Homo sapiens: one gene and its partner. The protein of the gene in region 2 purifies or fractionates together with the protein of the main gene of each other region. This does not show direct contact. Each region holds a gene or a part of one and is shown on either strand. Other genes may lie near its edges.

Evidence for each region.
Region 1: the proteins of NPAP1 (region 2) and ITGA8 purify together in Homo sapiens (affinity purification with mass spectrometry; one large-scale study listed by BioGRID and IntAct). This does not show direct contact.

Annotation. Positions count from the first base shown.
Region 1 is NC_000010.11:15,608,115-15,611,949, forward strand, and holds part of ITGA8 (integrin alpha-8 isoform 1 preproprotein), read right to left. Parts: intron 177-3,835; coding exon 121-176; intron 1-120. UniProt on the Homo sapiens protein: Integrin alpha-8/beta-1 functions in the genesis of kidney and probably of other organs by regulating the recruitment of mesenchymal cells into epithelial structures.
Region 2 is NC_000015.10:24,681,200-24,684,094, forward strand, and holds the end of NPAP1 (nuclear pore-associated protein 1), read left to right. Parts: 3' UTR 1-2,194; downstream 2,195-2,895. UniProt on the Homo sapiens protein: May be involved in spermatogenesis.

The DNA of each region.
Region 1 (3,835 bases), on a different chromosome or scaffold from region 2:
CAACAGATATCTTGGTATTCCTCAAGGGTTCTTTCATTTTTTTATGGTCTGTGCAGAGAAATGGTTACTGTTCAACTTTCTTAGTATACCATAAGAATGTAAAAATGAAAACATGCTTACCTATTGTGTTTGCAATGCTCTGGCCTGTGACAGATGCACATACTCTTAAAGAAAAGCTATAGAAAATAGTAGTAATTTATTGGTTAATAAAGTTTTGAATCTAAAGTAGAAGCCTTCCTTTACCTAATCCCAGATAACGAATATCATTTTCTCTATATATTTCTAATTACACACACACACACACACACACCCACACACACACCCCTTCTACCAATTGATCTCAACACTAATACAATCAAGACAAGTGACATTATTATTACATGGAAGGTAATACTGGAAAATAGTACAGGAGGTTAACTGATTTAATCAGTTGCTCAATTAGTCAATTACTTGTTGCTTTTATTCAATGAATACAGGTCAGTATCTTCCATGTGCCAGGGAGGGAAGAATTAGGCAGCAGAGCAAGAGGATAGCCAGAGGTAAAATCTGGAGGTGAGTAAGAATCTGGACCCATTTGAGGAAACTGAAGAAATTCAGTGTAGTCGGGGCACTGAGCAAGATGGCAAAGTTGTAGGAGGCAAGGCTGGCTTGGTGGATCGGTGAGGAACAGGGCTTTGAAAGTCATGCTAAAAAATGCAGATTTAATCTTCAGAAGCATGGAGCACATGGTATGCTTAACTTAAAACACCCACTCTGCTTGGAAGGAGATGAAATTTGGCAGAACCTTGCTACAGTTGGGGTAAGACTGGAGGTTGAGACGAGAAGAGGGAGGGGAGAAAGAGAAAACAGGAAGTTTAGCATGGCTGTCTCAAGCTAGGTGGGCACAATGATATAGGAATAAAGACAATCAAGAGAGGGCAGATGTCCATGAGAGACACTTTGGAGTTGTGCCTTGAACACACCATCACTACCATTCAAGGCAATGTCTGCACTGGCTTATAGGATGATCTGCACTTGGCTTTGGTCTGTGGCTACAGATGGAATGAGAGACGACTGACTCCCTGGCTGCCTTTGTTGAATGAAAGTGCTCACCTCTCCCTGAAAAATTCCAAGCCCTAACAGCTATCACTAGAGATGGGGCCTTTTCACATTTCTAGGAAAGTGAAAATATAAGAAAATACTTAAGTATGGTTTAATGACAGTCATAAACTTTTACCAGTAAAATACTATAGTATGATGTGGATATTTCTACAGAATTCAAAGGGAGTAAATAATCCCCAATCATACTTTAATTATGTGTCAGCTTCCTGTGTCAAATATAATGAAAAAGTGTCACATCTGGGATTCATCTATCTGCTGTGACCTCAGTCAATGTCTCCCCTCAGGGTAAATAATTTGCCACATACCATTAAGCCAAAAGTTTCCTGAAATGTCTACGCTATTACAAGTGTTTATTCCGCTTCCCCAGAGAAATCACTGATTCCAACTTGCTTCTGCTTCAATTAGAATTATTCAAGAAAGATGAAGAGTTAATCACATCTTTCAATTTTGTAGTAAGCCTGGCTTTCAAAATTAGAATTTTTCTGTATCCAACCTTTTTGAAAGTATTTTGGTGTATGTTCAAATCAGCCAATGATCTTTTTTTCCATTCATCTTTAACTGTGTAGACCAAAGCCATTAGCTTTTATAAAATAAATTCCTATTTGTAATGACATTATCAACATATATACATTAAAATCATTTTAGATACAGTATTTTTAATACAAACAATTCAAAATAACTAATTTTTAAAAAGGAATAAAGTTATACAAATGAACATTTTTTTCCTTATGGGATGGTATATAGTTGATAAATGATGTTATCAGCTAAAGGGTTACTATTTATTTATGAATTACCTGTCAGTATAAATCTCTATTTCTTTCTTAGCTCACTCTTTCTGTTTTCTGAATATCATTACCAAATGGATGACTTTAACTTTTTTTTCATACAAGTGTAATATCACTGCTACAATGTACTGAATTCTCAATAATAGCACTCCAACCTAAACCTGCCAGTTAATAGATTACTTTAGTGGAAAAGAGTCTGTGAAGTCATAATTTTTCAAACTCTGTGTTATGATCTAAAGAAAATTTCAAGATTTTATAGTAGTGGGCTGATGTGTTCATGCTGAATTTAGGAAAACATACTATATTATATATAAGCACACATACATCACAGGTCATATGGAGCATAGAATTAGGATCACTTGCAGGCCTACAGCTAATTACAAAGTATACTTGGGTCATTAGGGAAAGCTGTAAACTTTCATTAAATTAGAATTAAAATTTCAAACTAGAAATATTGGTCATTTTCAGTATGGCCCATTAGTCTAAATAGGTCTGATTGGAACAAAAAAACCCATCAAATCAATCCAAGTCCCTTATTACATAAATTCTAAATTAAACTGTTTGTGGACAGTGCTTTTGATATGGCCAGAAGGCAGGGTGATACACTACATGATCTTCTGAGGCTAGTCCCAACCCAAGCACGGTTGGAATAATGATTCTGCGTTGTGACTGTGCTCACAGCTGTCTATGATGAAGAGAAAATGAGATAAATGTGAAACACGATTTAAAAGTACAAAGCAATTCATTTTACATTCTCATCAGTTTTCACTCCTATTTCAGTGATAGCAAATAGCAGGTTTCACACAGTCACTCACATCTGACAAGTTTTTTTAATCAGGTTGGACAACTGGGTCGTTACTCACTTTTACATTTCTAAAATGAAGTATTTCGCTAGTTTTTCTTTTTGTAATTGGTTAGTCACCAGTTATATTAATATTTATTGAGCTGGCTTTTTTCCCCCTTTTTCTAACTTAGAAATACCAATTAAAGATAGATACTTTATAAAACTACACCGCTGTTTGAAAGACACAGAAATCCACATCGATGGAAGTGAAGAACTATTTGCCAAGTAGAGTTTATGTGATAGTTTTCAGATGTATGATATAAAGTTATATCAAATACAGACACAAATAACAGCAGAGAAAATCAACGGAGACCTTTCAATCATTTTGGAAAAACTAAGCTAAGTTCCTAAAATAAAGAAAAAAGAGAATCAAAGAAACACATTCTAGACTGAACCAGCTGTTAACTTTCTGTCTTCTGAGGCTCTGAGGCACCATTCACAAATTTTGCATGTGAAAATAAGACTTCTTCCAGAAAAATGTATGCAATAGAAACAAATATAATTGTAAAGGGATATACATTTGTCCACATAACAAATTGCACTTTATCTTAATAATATGATTAAATGCAGTAAGAAAATGGCTCATGAAAAGAAAGACATTTTCTTGTTAAAAAGTAATATTCTTTCCATAAAACCAAACAGAACTCTTTTTTTTTTTTTTTTTTGAGACAGAGTCTCCCTCTGTCACCCAGGCTGGAGTGCAGTGGTGCGATCTCAGCTCACTGCAAGCTCCGCCTCCCAGGTTCATGCCATTCTCCTGCCTCAGCCTCCTGAGTAGCTGGGACTACAGGTGCCCGCCACCGCGCCCAGCTAATTTTTTGTATTTTTAGTAGAGACAGGGTTTCACCATGGTCTCGATCTCCTGACCTCGTGATCTGCCCGCCTTGGCCTCCCAAAGTGCTGGGATTACAGGCGTGAGCCACCGCGCCCGGCCCCAAACAGAACTCTTAATCTGGTTAAAAAAAAAAAAAAAAAACCACACACTTCAGTCTTATACAAATATGCATTAAACTAAAAACCCTTAGAATCAATTATCTAGTTCAAAACAACAACATTCTATATCAGAGTGTACCACATGTGCTTAAAGGAATTCAGCCTAGAAGTC
Region 2 (2,895 bases):
TGTAATAACAGTTGACTCAAACTTCAAAAGTCTCAATGAAATCAGTACTTTTACTATGGCCTGTTTATCTCATAAGATTTTTGAAAGGATAAAATGAAATAATATGGAGAAATGACTTATAAGCTTTTGTTGTAATTTGTTATATACATAGGGATGGATAGACGGATGGATAGATTAGATGATAGATAGATAGATAGATAGATGATAACGTTATGGACTGAATGTTTGTGTACCCCCAAAAATTGATATTTTGAAGCCTAACTTCCAGTGTGATGGTATTAGGAGGTGAGGCTTTGGGGAGGTGATTAGGTTTAGATGAAGTCATGAAAATGAAACCCCCATGATGGGATTTGCGCCTTTATGAGAAGAAATACCAGTGCTTTCTCTAATTGCCATGTGAAGGTATACCAACAAGGTAACAGTCTGTAAGCCAGGAAAAGAGTCCTCACAAGAAACAGAATTTGTCTTTATCTTGGACTTCCTAACCTTTAGAATTGTAGAAAATAATTGAATGTTGTTTAAGCTACCAGTCTGTGGCATTTTTTGTAGCAATCAGAACTGACTAATAAAGATAGATAGATGATAGATAGATACATAGATAGATGATAGAGATAGATGATAGATAGATAGATAGATAGATAGATAATATACATATATATGTATGGTCAATGACTGAGTTCCTTAGGCAATGGTGCCCTGATTGCCTTTATTAGGCAATTCAAATAGAAGAATAGAAGAACCCCCTTTTTTTTTTGAGATGGAGTCTTGCTCTGTCACCCAGGCTGGAGTGCAGTGGCGTGATCTTGGCTCACTGCACGCTCCACCTCTCGGAAGAACCCCTTTTTATTAGCATAAAAGCACTTACTTTTATGAAGCAAACACATGTAAAAATATGATAACAGAGACTAAAACATTTATGAGATTAGGCCTGAAAGAAAACAATCACAGAGAAATTACTGAATTCCTCTTGGCACCCTGGGGCCTGATTCATTCGCTCTAAATTGTTTAGTACAGTTCCAGAGGATCAAAGCTCCTGTTTCCTGGCCAGATAATCACCTAACTTTTGTAATCAGAACTGCCTTTCAGAAGTAGAGTGGAAATCCAGTTTTCTTCTAATAGCCCTATACCCTTGCAGTATTACCAGGGACAAATTTTTTAAAATTCATACTTCTTGACATTTTTTAAAAGGCTTCAAGCTAAATATTATGATCCTGGTAAGACAAACTTTGAATAAATGTGTGAGAGATACAAAGATAATTTTTGTTTTCATGTTTTGATGCACTTACACAACTGAAACTATTTCTAAATATTCTTTTATTTTTTATTAAGATAAAAAGCAAACATAATATCAATTTAAATAATACTGAAAGTCAACCTTCCTACCACAGTTCCCTCCTCCAGAGATAGTGTTTAGCTACTTTGATGTCACTCCCATAGTTCTGAGTTTGCTTTTTTACTTCAACTATTATGTTATCTTACAGATGTCATTGTTTTTCCTAAAACTTGAAGTGCCTTCCTTTTTTTCTCCTTGAACTCTTTTCCCATAAAAAAAAAATGTTTTTGGTTTCTAGAATTTTCAAATAGTATTGTTTACTTGACTGAATCCCTTCCTTTTCCAGAAACCTTGAGCCTCCTCCACTGGTTTGGGAGTGGTAAGACCAAAGTAAATGTAAAAAGTAAAGTAGAGGTTCCTCTTCAAAGACTTTCCTCCCTATCTAATTAGAAATAAGTAGTAACTTCTTTTAGAAGCAAAATGTATTCACAGACCTGTACTAACATTCTTAAATATCTGCTAGTCATAATAAAGAAATCAATGTACTTTATGTTCTTAGCTCCCACAATTTAGCCTAAGTATTTGCCCTGGCATGCTTATACTGGTCCAAGCATTAGGTCATAGCCTGTTCCTCTTCCTTATTTAGAAGTGTTTTTACCTTTCTCAGCATTCCACAAGTTACTTCCTCATTCCTTTGTTCTCCTCTACCTTTGCCTCTTTTAAAAGTTCTAAATTGCTAGCCAATCGGGACAAATACAGAATGTGAGGTCCTGTTCCAGCCAATGGAAACCGGACACAGCAGTAGGGTGGACGCGTCAGGTTATAAATGACCCTGTCTCCTTTGTTCGGTGTACTCTTGTGGCAAAACTGCTGGCAAGTGTACCCTTTCTGCAGGAAGTAAAAATGGCCTTACTAAATAAATTTATGTTCAAGTGCTATTTCTTTACGACACCGAGGAACAAGCATTTCAAACATAAGGACATGGTCTCAGAAGAAAGAGGCCTAAAGGAGCCACCCAAACTGCTTTTAGTTTAGCCCAGAAATGCTCACTAATCAATAATTTTTAAAAAATGTCTAATTCTGGCTGCATCATCCTAATTTCCTGAATCTATGGTAGAGCCAGGAATCTGGATTCCAGGCAGCACTCTAGGGAGGTATGATGCAGACAGTCCATGTTTCCTATTATTCCAAACACTGCTTCACACCTTACATGAGAGCTCACCAAAGTCCTCATTCATCTCATAAGATAAAAAAATTTGTATAGGATGTGGTTCCAAAGCCCTAATTAGTAATAAGCAGAGTGTTTTCCTTACATCTGTGTCTCATGAACTAGAAAATGGCCTGCGGAAAATTTGAGAATTTCCAACTCATGGATGCATGTCTTTCTTGCTCTAAATATCTTCATGTTAGAGGTCTAGAAACTGCCCCCAACTGTGAGAACACTGTCCAGGGCCCCCTTAACCAGTCACTGCTGTGATCCCAGGGTTATGTGATGCAATGAGGGCTTCCCAAACAGCAATTCATTCTTTACCTGAGGCAGAGCTGGGAATGGCTCTCTCAGAAGTCCCAGGACAGGAATATCATCATCAGATGTGCCTTCCAGATAGGAAAATTGAGGCTCA